2 separate regions of the Homo sapiens genome follow, and region 2 is linked to region 1. Evidence: fine-mapped expression QTL. Tissue or cell type: whole blood. Region 1 holds a variant in brackets; the other region holds the start of a gene. All regions are shown on one strand. Distances are from middle to middle.

Region 1 (8,259 bases):
TTTGCACCTCCCATGAACTAGAGCCTAGCAGTCTTGGGTCTGGGCCTATATGAACAAATCCATAGGACAACCTCTGCTTGTCAGAAGACCCGGCTCTGGAATTTAACGGACCTAGGCTTGAGTCTCAGGCGCATGCCTCAGCGTCCTTATGTTTTAAATGGAATGATAAAGCTGGCTTTGGAGGGTGGTTGAGAGGGTTCCCAACACCCTGGATGAGAGAGAAATGCTTAGCACAGGTCTGGCACACAGTAGGTGCTCAGCCCCACTTCCTTTCTTTCTCCTTCTCCTCATCTCTCCTGGTCACTGTCACCTGGCCTTCTACTACCCCCTGGACATGTTCTATAGAGAGGGGAGCACTGGGCCAGGAGCACTAGAACCCTGGGTCCCAATTCTCACTTTTCTGGACCTTGCTGTGCAATGTTGGGCAAATATCTGGCCTTCTCTGGTCTGGCCAGATCATCTCAAGAACACTTTCTCGTGCTGTGGATCCAGGTTGTGACCTCTTGGGAGAACTGGACTCAGTTTCCCCTTTCTGTGTGCTTTCTATCCTGCCTGGTTCACAGTAGGTGCTCCAGGGACAAACATGGAAATGAGATGAGTGGGTCATTAGCGATATCTGGACACCAAACTGTGCAGATCTGGTTTGGAGGCCCTGGCTGTCAGAATGGTGCTCATTCTTCTGGGAGAGCTGGGCCAGGGTGGGGTGGGGGAGGGGAGAGGCTACTGCATTTCTTATTTTTTTGAACCTCTAAGGCCTTATCCTGTTCTTGCAGCCCCAGCCTCCACTCCTAGATGACGTGGGATTAGGGGGCCAGCTCTGGCTTCAGAGACCCCTATTTCTTTTTTTTTTTGAGTCGGAGTCTCGCTCTGTTGCCCAGGCTGGGGTGCAGTGGTGCGATCTCGGCTCACTGCAAGCTCTGCCTCCCGAGTTCACGCCATCCTCCTGCCTCAGCCTCCCGAGTAGCTGGGACTACAGGTGCCCGCCACCACGCCCAGCTAATTTTTTGTATTTTTAGTAGAGACTGTTAGCCAGGATGGTCTGGATCTCCTGACCTCGTGATCCGCCCACCTCGGCCTCCCAAAGTGCTGGGATTACAGGCATGAGCCACCATGCCCGGCCCCTTCTTCTCTCGCCTAACCCACCCCCACTCCCCTCCCCCTCCCCTCCCCCCTCCCCTCCCCTTCCTTCCCTCCCTCCCTTCCTTCCCTCTTTCTCTCCCTCCCTCCCTTCCTCTCTCCCTTCCTCCTGTCTTTCTTCCTTCCTCCCTTCCTTCCCTCCCTCCTTCCTTCCTTCCTCCCTCCCTGCTCCCTCCCTTTCTTTCTTCTTCCCTCCCTTCCTTCCTCCCTCCCTTCCTTCCTCCCTTCCTTCCTCCTTCCCTCCCTGGTCTAGCAAGAGAAAAAAAAAAGGGCCCTGTACACCCACTTGCTACTTCACCCACCAACCCATCCCATCAGCAATGGGTGAGCGAGGCCAGGCCCAGTGCCAGGCAATGAGTATACAGCAGAGAACAAAACCACCCTGGTTTTGCCCTTAAGGGGCTTTGAGCCTGGTGGGGTGACCGCTATCAGCAGGCAGTGTTCAGTCCAGGCTCTGAAATTTAACAGACCTAGGCTTGAGTCTCAGGCGTATGCCTCAGCTTCCTTATGTTTTAAATGGAATGATAAAGCTGGCTTTGGAGGGTTGTTGGGAGGGTTCCCAACACCCTGGATGAGAGAGAAATGCTTAGCACAGGTCTGGCACACAGTAGGTGCCCAGCCCCACTTCCTTTGTTTCTCCTCCCCATCTCTCCTGGTCACTGTCTGTGATCCCCAGGCAGTGTTCACTCAAGATATTGTGTGATGGAGATGCACAGGCCATGGAGGAGCCCATAGAAGGTCCTAAATCAGCTCGAGGCAGCAGCTATCTGGGCAGGCTGCCTGGAGGAGGGGATGTTTAGGAAGACACCTGCAGGAGTTAGCCAGGGGAGGAAGCAAGGGATGGTAAGTGTTCCCGGCAGAGGGAACAGCATGTGCAATCCTCTGGGGTGACAGCAGCACTCTCAGGAACTGAAAGGGGCTCAAAAATGGCTGGAAATGGAAAACCAATAAGACTACCACCATCAACAATCATGGTGGCCTTCTCGATGTGCCCAGCTGCCTCCTGCATGATCTCACTAAGCCCCTCCGGAAATCCACTCCTGTTTTACAGACCAGGAAGCAGAGGCCTGGAGATTCAGAGACTCACCTAGGCCCCGCAGTGTGTATGGGGCCCAGGGCGGAGCTGGGGTTGGATCCAGGCTGCAGAAGCTCAGCCTCCTCCCCAGGACAAACAGCCAGGCTCCGGTGGGGCAAGAGAGGCAGGGTCCTGGGGAAAACTTCCTCCCAGAGCTCCCCCGGGCCAGGCCTGGAGGCCCCGGGGAGGCCCTGCGGGTGGGGGCGGGGCGTGGGAAGGCTGTAAACTGGCTTGGGGCGGTAGGGCTTTCCTGTCGCTGCCGGTGGCCCCCGCCTTTGTCCTCATGTGTCACTGAGGAATGCAGCTACAGTCCAGATAAAGGCAGCTTTGTTTGGAGACCTCAGGAGGGGGAAGGGGGAAGGGGGAAGGTGGGGAAGGGGCAGAAAGAAGCAGGCTGGGGAAGGGGAGGGGTTACCATCACCTCCTGGCTGATCCCAACCCCCTGGCTCTGGGCAGGAAGCACCTATGCCCCCGTGGACACCCACATCCTCTGCCATCCCCTTAAGGCACTTCCTGACTTTGGGCAAGCAGCTCCCTCCTCTCTGAGCCTCAGTTTCCTCATTTGGATGATGGGGATCATCTGTCAACCTCTATGGATAGTTTGGAGGTTCCAGCCAAGTAAGTCATATGGTTGATTTGACTTGCAAGGCATATTGATGACTAAGAAAAAGACAGCCCAGAGAGGTCAAGTGACTTGCCCAAGGTCCACACAGCTTGACCTTGGAAGGAGTGATGCAGTCGGGTGTTTGCCAAGCATTGAGGGGGTGGGGCAGAACGAGGCTGGGATCCCAGGCTGCGCCCTTTGATGTGGCAAGCAAGAATGACAGGTGGTCCCTTGAATGTATGCACTTGCTCATGGAAGCCTCACCAGGGTGGGCGTTGAGTTTGCCCTTGGTCACTACTGTCCCCATGCCCCTCGGTGCCTGGCACAGGTAGGCAGGAATGCTCAATGATTTAAACCCACAGCCTCTGGGGCCAGGCGGCTACCACCTGGGGCTGTGTGATCTTGGGCTAGTCCTGATCCTCTCCATGTCTCAGTTTGCCCCTCTGTAAAACGGATCTAATATGAGGACTCCCCTCACGTGCACAGGCCGTGGAGGAGCCCATAGAAGGTCCCTAAATCAGCCTGAGGCAGCAGCTATCTGGGCAGACTGCCTGGAGGAGGGGATGGGCAAGTTCAAGGAGATGATCTGCACAGAGCCTGGCATCGGTTATTCGGATTAGTGGGACAATGGCTATCTGCTTGCTGGCTGCACAGAGGATTTTCCCAAGGTCATGGCCGAGGGTGCGCTGGGATCAGCCCAGGCTCCTCTGGGCTGTTTCTGCCCAGGAAGGAAGGGTGTGAGTCCTGCAGTGCAGGGGTGAGGCGGTTGAGTGCAGGAGGAGTAGGCATCATGTGCCACCCAGCTCCAGGCCGGGCTCTGCCCTTTTGAGAGGAGGTGTCATGTGGGTCTGGAGCTAAGGGACGTGGCCCCCTGGCCCCTCCTCACAGTGACGGATGTGGACAGACAGATGGTCTAGGGCTGGGCACGCTTAGTCATGGCCCA[G/A]ATATAACCTGGGCCCCATGGGGCGGCTCCCTCTGTCTCACTGTCTCACAGCAGCTGCAGCCAATCCCAGTGGGTCTGAGGCCTCACTTTGCCTACTGAGTGGGTCTCAGCTCACTCTCTTTGGATGCAAGAGGAAATGGAAGCCCAGAGAGGGGAAGTGACCCACTCAAAGCTGCACAGCAAGCGAGGGACAAAATCATCTGGTCACTCACTGACTTGGCAAATATTTCTGGACTCTGAAGAGTGGACTAAGTCCATCAGGGAAGAACATACCTAGAGAAAGCACTGACTTGGACAAAGGTACAGAGGAGAAGTTCTGTGATGGTTAAGGGTGTGGGTACCAGTCTGCTGGGATCCAAGCCCTCTCTGGCACTTGCTGTGTGACTTAGAGCAAGTGAATCAACTACTCTGTGCCTCTGTTTCCTCACCTGTAAGTTGAAGATATTCACAGTGTTTATGTCATAGGGGTCTTATGAGGATGAAATGAGTTCATTCATGCAAGATGCTTAGCATGGGTCCTGGCACACAGTAGGTGCTCAATAAACAGGAGCTGTTAGGAAGGCATGGGGAATGAAGGACATGTGGAACATGGGAACCACCAGCCAGTGGTTGGTAGGGAATGTCTAGAGCCCAGAGTGGGGTGTTGTGGCCCCATGTGGAAGCTTGGGGAACCAGGGCTTAGCCTTGTAAAGAGAGTGGGTGGGGGCAGGGCAGGGTAAAGGCTGGGAGGTTCTGGCAGGAGGCAGGAATTCTAGGTGAGCAATACTGGGGCGATGAAACTAGAGCAGAAATGGAGGCAGGGACGAGAAGGAGGTGGAAAGGAGGGGCTTGGAACCTGTCTAAATGTGGCAGGAAGAGGAGGGGTGTCATCCAGGAGAACCGTCCCGGGTTCCAGTGGAGGAGAGGAACCTACAAAGGGAGAGATGGAGCCCCTGACTGGTGGGGCCAGCCACTCTCTGAGAGTCTCTGAGGTGCCCAGCCTGGCCCAGGAGGTATCATCATGCTTAGGGTGGCAACAAAATTTGCAGGCTGCCGTGTGAAACAAAACTGCAGTCCTCCTTGTTTAAAAGGCAGGAAAAATGTACAGTAAAGGTACTAAAATAGGAAATGTTTGCCCTTCTTCCGTGAGTCTCTTCTGCTCACCTGCATGCTTCACTGCCCCACTGGGCTTCACTTACAAAACATAGATAGGTGCAGAAATTAAGAATTTCAAGATGGTGGCCGGGCATGATGGCTCACATCTGTAAACCCAGCACTTTGGGAGGCTGAGGTGGGCAGATCACATGAGGTCAGGAGTTCAAGACCAGCCTGGCCAACATGGCGAAACCTTGTCTCTACTAAAAATACAAAAATTAGCTGGGTGTGGTGGCGCATGCCTGTAATCCCAGCTACTTGGGAGGCTGAGGCAGGAGAATCACTTGAACCTGCGAGGCAGAAGTTGCAGTGAGCCGAGATCACGCCACTGTACTCTAGCTTGGGCAACAGAGGAAGACTCTGCCACACACACACACACACACACACACACACACACACACACACACACAAAGAATTTCAAGACGGTAACAGCAAAACATAAACCCAGCTTGGAGCCTTTCTGAGCGCCGGGCTCTGTGCAACTGCAGAGATCTCATGGCCGTAAAGTTGGCCCTGATTCATGCCCATTCTGCAGAGGAGAAAGCTGAAGCTCAGAGAAGTGAAATATCCTGGTATTCTCACTCCAATTCCAGAACCCCCTATATTCTGCACCCCCTTCCAATGCTTGCTCATGTCTAATTGTTATTCACCAATCTCCAGAGAAGGGTTCGAAGCAATTGATGGTAAAATGCAGGAGCTGTTAACACAGGTGCAGTGGAAGGCACACCATGACCCTGAGGGAGGACGCCGGCCTGGGAGCTGTGTGACCTTGGATGGGCCGTGCAAACTCTCTGTGCCCACAGTCCCTCTGCAGAGACTGGTTCAGAACTCCTGTTTCCCCAGCCCCCAAGCCTTGCCTCCCTTCCTGACCCATATTCCCCTTGGTGTCTGAGGCTTGAAGCGGTTATAAAAAATAAAACCACAGTCCCCTGATGTGCTTTCTGGCTTCTCAGGCCTTATTTTTTTTGGCCGCTAAGGAGACTAATAAATGGCTTGCCACTTGACGTAATCATTAAGGGCTCCACTGAGCTGTGGGCAGTGTTTTCTCTCCTCCTTGGCCGGGCCTGGGGCGCACAGCCACCGAGGGTGGCAGTGATGGATGGTGTCATCATGGGGCTTGCCCGGGGGAAGTGCTGGTGGTGGTCGGCCATGGCTCTCTCTCCTGCAGGCTCCTGGGCTATTCATTATGCGAAGGAGGAGCTGAAGCGTGGGGGTGACGGCTGGCTTCCAGAAGGAGCATGGACTGGAATTCCAGGCGGAGTGTGGGCCAGGGTGTATATAAAGATTAGTGTTCGGGTGCAAAGAGTCAATTGATGAGTGGCCAATAAACAGAGGGAAGGAAAGCAGGGTATAATCCAATAATATACATTAAAACATTTTCTGAAGTTAGAAAATTGGTAAAAACTTTAAAAATAGAATTAAAAAATTAAAAATTAAAAAATTACGTGATTGTTTGCAAAAATGTTCTTAATTTGCCTCCCTTCTCTGTATCTGTATCCTTTGCAATGTGGCTTTGCAGTTCCTCCCATCAAGAGATAGAGTCTGTTTCCCACTCCTTGAATCAAGCCTCAGTCATGTGACATGTTTTGGCCAATAGAATGTGGTGGATGTGATGATGTGATTCTGTACCTGTTCTGAACCTCGGCCATAAGGGACTTGCAGCTTCGATTTGCTAACCTGAAATTCTGCTGCTGCCATGGAACAAGCCTGGGCTAGCTTGGGGGAGGAGGAGAGACCATGTGGAGTAGAGCCAAGCTCTGGACATTTGAGAGAGCCCGGTAATAATCAGCAAAATCAGCCAGTGATGCACAAGTAGGCTGATTGAGATCAGAAGAACCAGCTGACTGACCTGTGGATGCATGAGCAATAATAAATGCTTACTATTTTAAGCCATTGAGTTTGGTAATGGTTTGTTACACAGCAATAGCTGACTGATACAAATCATAATGCCCAGTATTGGTGATGGTGTGGGGAAATAGGCTTTCTCACACATAAGTAGCAGAACAGTTTGCTAAAATTTTGCATATCCATTGAAGCAACAACAACAACAACAAAAAATGAAAGGGTTATTATGGAGATTCTTTTTTTTTTTTTTTTTAAGAGACAGGATTTCATTTTGTCACTCAGGCTGGAGCTCAGTGGTGCAATCATAGCTCACTGCAGCCCCAAACTCTCGGGCTCAAGTGATCCTCCCACCTCAGCTTCCTGAGTAGCTGGTATTACAGATGTGTGCCACCAAGCCTGGCTACTTTTTCTTTAATTTTTTGTAGAGATGGGGTCTACCTATGTGGTCCAGGCTAATCTCGAACTCCTGGCCTCAAGCAATCCTCCCGCCTTGGCCTCCCAAAGTGCTGAGATTCCAGGTGTGAGCCACTGCTTGGAGATTCAATGCCTGGGCCAAATGCCTAGCATAACACTTAACACTTAAAAAATGCCCAACATGTCTTGGTCCCTTCTCTGTGGGCATATCACAAAGGGCAACAACATTTGGAAAGCTTATTCATAGTCTCTGTTTTGGGGATGGATTCCTTTAGAAATCCTAAAGAATTTGTTTCTTATGGACAAAGATTTTATCAACGAGGATGTCATGACAGCATTGATTATAGCAGATCAGTAGAAACAAACAACCTGACCAATGCTGTTACAACACTAGTAATAACCATTGTTACTTATTTTGCTGTTTTGTTTTTGCTTATTACCACTTATTTTTACTTACATTGCTTGAATCAATTAAGGTCTAGCTACAGGCTGAAATTCAGTTCAGCCATAAAATTAGGTCTTAGAAGAGGACTTATAGACATAGGGAAATACACTTTCTTACATATAACCAGCAGAGGGGCAGTTTGCTAAAACTTTGCATTTCCATTGAAGTAACAAAAAGATGGAAAGGTCTTTATAGGTTCAAGGTAATATTATCATTTTGTGGGTCAAATGTTCAGGCTGTTAAATGAGAATAAAACCAGATTACAAAATAGAATTACATTGTGATCTCCATATACCTGAAAAATTGTTGTTTTACATCTGTCTCTTTCTTTCTTTAAATCTGTGCAGAAAAAAAATATCTGGAAGAGAGTAATCTATTATAAGATGTTGTCTGGGTTTGTCCCTGATGTTGGGCTACAAGTCTCTTTTTGGTCTTCATCTTAGTGCATTTATTTTAAGCTTCTTCTGTGCCAGATGCATACATTTGGAGTCTCTTTTACTCCTTACAATGAATCTGTGATGTGAGTACTAGGACTGTCCCCATTTCACAGATGACGACATTAAGGGTTTGAGAAGCACCTTGCCTGATGTTCCACAGCTAGTAATATAGGCAAATACCTACATTGCCAGATTGTCTACAATATGCATTTACTGTCTTGATAA
Region 2 (8,000 bases), 130 kb before region 1:
GTGCTGACATCCCCACACTATGGAGGGGTGTGTGTGTGAGTACATGGATGCTGACATCCACACACTATGGAGGGGTGTGTGTGTGTGTGTGTGCTGACATAGCCACACGCTATGGAGGTGTATATGTGTGTGTGTGTGTGTGTGCTGACATAGCCACACACTATGGAGGTGTATGTGTGTGTGTGTGTGTGTGTGCTGACATCCACACACTATGGAGGTGTACGTGTGTGTGAGTGTGTTGACAGCTACACACTATGGAGATGTATGTGTGAGTGTGTGTATAAGTACATGGATGCTGACATCCACATACTATGGCGGGGTGTGTATGTGCTAACATAGCCACACGCTATGGAGGTGTATATGTGTGTGTGTGCTGACATCCACACACTATGGAGGGGTGTGTGTGTGTGTGTGAGTACGTGTATGCTGATATTGCTCTGTGTGTGCATGTGAGTGCATGTGTTTGCTGACACAGCCACACACTATGGAGGTAAGTGTGTACATGTGTCTGTGCTGGTGGTGTTGGGGGCCAACGGGGCAGGCACGAAGGCTGTGTGTCTCCTGGGTGACGGGTATTGGGTGTGGGTTGCTTTGTGTTTCTATAGAGTGAGAGTTCACTGGTGGGCTGCAGGCTGAGGCTCCTGGGCTAGCTGAGGTGTGCCAGGCTCTCCATATCAGCGGTGAGTGTTCTGGGGGCCATCCCAGGCAGTTCCCCACTTGTCACCAGCTTAAAACATCCCTCTCCAGCTCTGGGGCCCCATCCAGCTGTGTCTCCTCCTTCCCTTGCCCAGAGGGCCTCCTCTGGCCGTTGCCAGCACACTCAGTGCCCCCGGAGGGGGACCTGGGGAGGGAGGAGGATGGAGAAAGCCCTGGCGGGTGGAGGGCCCTGAGGCTCCTACTGCTCCCGGCTCTGCGCCTGCGGGGACTTTGAATTCATCTGAGCGCTAGGGGGCAATGTGTCTGTTCCAAAGAAACACTGCGGGACCTTGCGGGCGAAAGCACACACAGGCACACGCAGGGGTGCCCACACTGTGGAGGCGCACACGCCGGCGCATACACGGGCACAGATGGGCACAGGCTGTGAGGCACACGCCCTCACACTCGCAGAAAAAACAGATACACTGGAGCAGAGATACAGGCATGCAAGGGGTGAGGCAGCTGCACACACACAGGTACAAACGCAGTGGCTCACACACACAGAAATGCGGGGTTGGGGGACAGACAGAGAACATGCACCAAGACCCCCAAAGATCCATGCACGAACGCCGACGCAGGCATGGACAGAAACACACGCAGATGCCCCGCCACCCGCATACAAGCAAAGGCACAAAATGCAGACGTGTGCCACACACCCGCACAACATTTGCAGTGTTAAAGAAAGGTGACCGAGACACACATCCTGAACAGAAACTTCACCAGGTCCAAACACTCCCTTCTTTCAGCCACTCACACACCTTGTGGAGCTAACTCTTGGAAACAGCCCCAGAAAAATACTCCCACACCCCCCCTCCCTGGAGCACACGGAATTATTCCACAGGAAACCTGCCCAGGTGTGCTGGAGACCCCCACCCAGCCCTGTGTGAAGTCATGCCTCAGCTCTGCAGACGCCCCCATCCGGGTCTCCCCAGACGACAGGCCTGTGAGCCATTCTTCCCACTCTCCTGGCCCACCCCCAGGCTCCAGACAGGTCCCCACTTTTCCCTATTTCCTCCAGACACAGAAACACAGGCGGCTCATAGGTGCCTCAGGAGACACCCATAGTCGAGAGCAGACTGAGTGTGTGACCCAGTATCTTGGACTATGCCCAGGCCTTTGCCCATGTGGGGGCCTCTTCCTCACAACCAGGTTTTCCTATTGCCTCCCGCTTTTTGTCCAGGAGGTTCAAGATCCCCCCTGCTCTGTCTCGGGAGCCCCAGAGCCCCAGGGTCCTAGGCCCCGGGGCGGGCGGGGGGGGGGTGTCACTGGAGGGCCTACCCAAGCCTTTATTTCTTTGTGCCTAAATCAGCAAAGCCTCAGTCTTTTCTCTGGCTCTCACTTCCCTGTCACTTTGCTAAGTAATAATTTCCATGTCCAATTCCATTTCTTTTCTAGTTCTGAAACCTCTAAGCTATCAGCAAGAGGATAGTTCACATGAAAACTAATTACACAAAATCAATATTTAATCACAGACCAACAACCTGATCCTGCAGAAAAATCCTTTAAAAACTCCACCGCCCTGTACAAATACTTATTCCCTATGCTTATTTATGGACCCCATTTTTGATGGGGGTAATTTTCATTTTTAATTTCAAAAAAGAAAAAATATATATGTCTGTAAACTTCCACAACAGGAAGGCCCCGGGAAAGGTCTTGGATCTGAGCTTGCTCTGGCTGAGTTTTAAAGTTGTTGTTTTTTCTTGTTTGTTTATTTTTAATTAAAATTTTTTTTGGGCGGGGGGCAATTTCTTAGGAATTCTGCCGCTACCCCAAAGTTGAGCCCATTTCCCCCCACCCCCGGCATGTCGGTTCTGGCATACTTAGCACTGCCTTCCTAGCCGCAACTCAGGGGAGCAATGAATCTGCGCGTACGACATGGTAACTTTTTAACTCCTGCCCGCGACGGTGGAGTGCTTAATCTAAGGTTTTTAAATAAAAAGGGCTCAGGGGTTGGTTTTATTATAACGTTTATTTCATTTCAGATTTCATGCGTAATTTAGCAAACGCTAGACAGACTCGGGCGATAAACACTTTCTTTTGTGGGGGGGGAAAGGCATTTTCATACACCACGCTTAATTTTATTTAGATTTAATAGCGATATCAGGGGCACTTCAAAGAAAGTTCTTTTTTCGCCCTTCTCCTAAGAATGCGAATCTGCTAGCAAAATCGCCTCGTGCTATTTTATGGCAAGGAAAATTAAAGGCCTTCTCCCCCCTCCTTCCCTACACACACTTTAGGGAGGAACACACACACACACACACACGCATGCACAAACACACGCACGCAGGCGCGAGCACACGCACACAGGCGCACAGAATAAACACCTCTATCCTCCATCACCTCTAACTTCCAACTTCTAATTGCAAGATAGATTTCAGCCTCTGTGGGGATCAGGACGATCTAAACATTTTAACTAAGATTATTGGGATAAATATTTCATAAAGAGCAGGGCAGATATTAAATTACTCCTATTGATTTTAGTATCACAGCCCAATTCCATTCCTCGGCCTCTTCAGTTTAATTGATCTCTTAAGGAGGCCAACTTCGCACCCGCAGAGGGTCTGGGTCTTGGACCGGGTGGCCCAGGGCAAGGTGTGCGGCCCGGCGGGTGCGCCCTCTTCGTGCGTGTCTTCTCGGGGTTCCCAGCCGCCTCGCAAGTCGCTCCGGTTACTGGGCTCAACCGATGTGCTCCCCCATAAAGTGGCTGAGTGACTGTGACTCCTTGGAGCCCACGCCGGCCGGTGAGAACCGGGAACCCCAGGCAGTGGGGAAGGGGAACAATTGTGAACGCCCTAGTGACGGAGGAGTGAGCAAGCGCCCAGGTCTCTCGAGGAGAACCCTAACTTCGAGGTTCCCCGTCTGCTTTACCCTCCAAGAAAATCCCAGGGCCGGCTAACTTGGGCGCCGCTAGCGGAGAACGGAGTGTTCACCCCGGAGCCGAAGTGCAGTAGACACTTAGCGACTTTCCGTGGCGAGTCTAGGGTCTTTGCCTGGCGACCTCATTGTCTGAGCGCCCCGTACCGCTCACCGCCCACCTCCCCGCCCCCTGCCCACCCGGTGGGTCTCGCTCCAGTTGGGGGTGGGGAGTTGGGAACAGTGTGAATGGGAAGGGGGTGAACAAAGCCAAGCTCCCGCCATTCTCCTCCGCCTGCACCCTCTCCAGCTCGATGCGCCCGGAGGCCGGGGCGCGCCCCCAGCGCACTGACGCCGGACCCCGAGGAGAGGCGGGCGCAGGGGACCCCAGAGCTGGGGTAGTGCGGGTTCGTGGCGGGGGCTTCGGCAGCCAGGACCCCGGACCACCTTAAGAGCGAGCCCCGCCCCGAGCCCGGAACTTGGGCGGCGCTGATTGGTGCAAATGTAATGGCTGAAATTGATTGCTGAAATGCAAAACTTGTTGCTGCTTCTCCCGGCGCTGGGCGAGAGGCAGACACAGAGAGGGGAGCCGAGACCCTCGGAACGCCCCACGCAGAGCCCCCCCGCTAGTCGGGAGAGGGGTGCGCAGACCCCCCAGAGCTGCCCCCGCGCCCCCCTCCCCCCATTCCGGGCTCTGAGAGCGCAGCGGGAACGCCTTAGCCTGCTCGCCCGGCGTGGCCCCCCGACCCGCGTACGCCCCCCTCCCTCAGGTCCGAGAGGGACTCGCGAAGCACCTCAGCGCGGAGGCAGGGAACCGGAGCCTTGGAGCGACCCAACCCCTCGTCTCGCTGCCCTCCCGCGCCTGCAACGGTGCGCGGAGACTCCGGCGAACTCAGACACCCAACGGCGGAGAACAGAAGCGGCAGGCGGCGGACGTGGCCGCGAAGCTGCGCGCCGAACGCAGCGCACCCGCTGCCGAGCAGAGGAGCCGCGCCTTTCCCCGACCCTCGGCTCCAGCCCCCGGCGCCTGCCGCCTCGCAGCCCCTCTGCGTCCTCGGCTCGGGGGCCGGCACCGGCGATGCCGAGCGGAGCCTCCAGTCCTCCGACCCGCTGAAGAAGCAGCAGCCGCTCGCCCGGAGCCTACGGGGATTGTGCGAGCGGATCGTGCTCGGTGGAGGCTCGGGCTGCGGGGCGCGGGGACTCCGGGGGGCGGGGGGAGGGACCGCTCTGTCGGTGCCCGGCGCCAGCCGCGGCTTTGAAGGGTCTCCCTCCCCTGCCCTTAGCAGCTCTGCCACGGACTCCGGGAGGCTGCGGGCGGCGTCCTGAGGGCTCCCCAGCAGACCCAATCGGACTTGAGAAGGTGATCGCTCTGCTCTCCCAACCCCCTTCCCTCCCCATTCCCCCCACTTAACTTTTTGTCTCCGTTCATCCGCGGCTTCGTCCCCTCCCCGCAGACCCACCCGCGGCTGTGACAACCGCCCGGGGCATGGGCCCCCCAACACGGCTCCTAGAGGCCCCGCGGCCTCGCAAGATGTGAGAGGCCCTCCCCGGGCAGAATCGGAGCTTCAGGAGAGGAGCTAATACCCCGCCCCCCGTCCCTCACATCAGGCGGGGTGGAGGTGCGCGCTGAGCCCCCGCGGTGCTGAGCGTCCCGGAGCGCCCAATCCTGGGCTGGAACGAGTAGCTGGCCGGAGGCGCGCCGCGGAGAGCCGGCTGTCATGCCCTATTGATCCCCCTCTGCCCCCCGCCAAGTATGTTTGGGCTGGACCAATTCGAGCCCCAGGTCAACAGCAGGAACGCTGGCCAGGGCGAGAGGAACTTTAACGAGACCGGACTGAGCATGAACACCCACTTTAAGGCCCCGGCTTTCCACACTGGGGGGCCCCCTGGCCCTGTGGATCCTGCTATGAGCGCGCTGGGCGAACCCCCGATCTTGGGCATGAACATGGAGCCCTACGGCTTCCACGCGCGCGGCCACTCGGAGTTGCACGCAGGGGGGCTGCAAGCGCAGCCTGTGCACGGCTTCTTTGGCGGCCAGCAGCCTCACCACGGCCACCCGGGAAGTCATCATCCCCACCAGCATCACCCCCACTTTGGGGGCAACTTCGGTGGCCCGGACCCCGGGGCCTCGTGCCTGCACGGGGGTCGCCTGCTCGGCTACGGCGGCGCAGCCGGAGGCCTGGGCAGCCAGCCGCCCTTCGCCGAGGGCTATGAGCACATGGCGGAGAGCCAGGGGCCTGAGAGCTTCGGCCCGCAGCGACCGGGGAACCTCCCGGACTTCCACAGTTCAGGTGCCTCCAGCCACGCCGTGCCGGCCCCATGCCTGCCGCTGGACCAGAGCCCTAACCGAGCCGCCTCCTTCCACGGCCTGCCGTCCTCCAGCGGCTCCGATTCCCACAGTCTGGAGCCACGGAGGGTGACGAACCAAGGAGCCGTCGACTCGCTGGAATACAATTACCCGGGCGAGGCGCCCTCGGGACATTTTGACATGTTTTCGCCCTCTGACTCCGAAGGGCAGCTGCCTCATTATGCAGCGGGTCGCCAGGTTCCTGGGGGCGCTTTCCCGGGCGCCTCGGCCATGCCCAGAGCTGCGGGCATGGTGGGCTTGTCCAAAATGCACGCCCAGCCACCGCAGCAGCAGCCCCAGCAGCAGCAGCAGCCCCAGCAGCAGCAGCAGCAGCATGGTGTGTTCTTTGAGAGGTTCAGTGGGGCCAGAAAGATGCCTGTGGGTCTGGAGCCCTCAGTGGGCTCCAGGCACCCGTTAATGCAGCCTCCCCAGCAGGCCCCGCCACCCCCTCAGCAGCAGCCCCCGCAGCAGCCGCCACAGCAGCAGCCGCCGCCGCCACCCGGGCTTCTAGTCCGACAAAATTCGTGCCCGCCTGCGCTCCCTCGGCCCCAGCAGGGCGAGGCGGGCACGCCCAGCGGCGGCCTGCAGGACGGAGGCCCCATGCTGCCCAGCCAGCACGCGCAATTCGAGTATCCCATCCACCGGCTGGAGAACCGGAGCATGCACCCTTATTCCGAGCCTGTTTTCAGCATGCAGCATCCTCCTCCGCAGCAGGCGCCCAACCAGCGGCTGCAGCATTTCGACGCGCCCCCCTACATGAACGTGGCCAAGAGGCCGCGCTTCGACTTTCCGGGCAGCGCGGGAGTGGACCGCTGCGCTTCGTGGAACGGCAGCATGCACAACGGCGCTCTGGATAATCACCTCTCCCCTTCCGCCTACCCAGGCCTACCCGGCGAGTTCACACCGCCTGTGCCCGACAGCTTCCCTTCGGGGCCGCCCCTGCAGCATCCGGCCCCGGACCACCAGTCCCTGCAACAGCAGCAGCAGCAGCAGCAGCAGCAGCAACAGCAGCAGCAGCAGCAGCAACAGCAACAGCAACAGCAGCAGCAGCAGCAGCGCCAAAACGCGGCCCTCATGATTAAGCAGATGGCGTCGCGGAATCAGCAGCAGCGGCTGCGCCAGCCCAACCTGGCTCAGCTAGGCCACCCCGGGGACGTGGGCCAGGGCGGCCTGGTGCATGGCGGCCCGGTGGGCGGCTTGGCCCAGCCGAACTTTGAGCGCGAAGGCGGCAGCACGGGCGCCGGGCGTCTGGGCACCTTCGAGCAGCAGGCGCCGCACTTGGCGCAAGAGAGCGCGTGGTTCTCAGGTCCGCATCCGCCGCCCGGAGACCTGCTGCCCCGTAGGATGGGCGGCTCGGGTCTGCCCGCTGACTGTGGCCCGCACGACCCCAGCCTGGCGCCCCCTCCTCCGCCTGGTGGCTCGGGGGTGCTGTTCCGGGGCCCTCTGCAGGAGCCGATGAGGATGCCCGGAGAGGGCCACGTGCCCGCGCTGCCTTCACCGGGCCTGCAGTTCGGGGGCAGTCTGGGAGGCCTGGGTCAGCTGCAGTCGCCCGGGGCGGGCGTGGGGCTCCCCAGCGCTGCTTCGGAGCGCCGGCCCCCGCCGCCGGACTTTGCTACGTCTGCGCTCGGGGGCCAGCCGGGCTTTCCGTTTGGTGCAGCCGGCCGGCAGTCCACGCCGCACAGCGGTCCAGGCGTGAACTCGCCCCCCAGCGCGGGAGGGGGCGGTGGCAGCTCTGGTGGCGGCGGTGGCGGGGGTGCCTACCCGCCGCAGCCTGATTTCCAGCCCAGCCAGCGCACCTCGGCCAGTAAATTGGGCGCGCTCTCGCTGGGCTCCTTCAACAAGCCCAGCTCCAAGGACAACCTGTTCGGCCAGAGCTGCCTGGCTGCGCTCTCCACCGCTTGCCAGAACATGATCGCCAGCCTCGGGGCCCCCAACCTCAACGTGACCTTCAACAAGAAGAACCCGCCAGAGGGCAAGAGGAAACTGAGCCAGAACGAGACCGACGGCGCGGCAGTGGCCGGCAACCCGGGCTCGGATTACTTCCCAGGAGGGACTGCTCCTGGGGCCCCAGGACCCGGAGGCCCGTCCGGGACCAGTAGCAGCG

The links. PIP is the estimated chance that this variant, and not a neighbour inherited with it, causes the effect.
Region 2: MN1 starts here. The variant in region 1 is fine-mapped to the expression of MN1 in whole blood (TOPMed, PIP above 0.99). The same link has a PIP of 0.9 or more in blood mononuclear cells and monocytes.

Annotation. Positions count from the first base shown.
Region 1 is chr22:27,665,043-27,673,301 of GRCh38, reverse strand. No RefSeq gene overlaps it. Among named protein-coding and RNA genes, the nearest start is that of CPMER, 46 kb to the left of the region's middle. RefSeq lists enhancers at 3,576-3,870, 3,676-3,970, 5,347-5,846. The variant G/A (reference allele first, on the strand shown) is at 3,760.
Region 2 is chr22:27,797,846-27,805,845 of GRCh38, reverse strand. MN1 (MN1 proto-oncogene, transcriptional regulator) reads left to right here and starts at 4,090. Exons shown (of 2, transcript NM_002430.3): 1 at 4,090-8,000. The coding sequence starts at 5,303. RefSeq lists enhancers at 553-1,116, 1,117-1,681, 6,024-6,569, 6,570-7,116.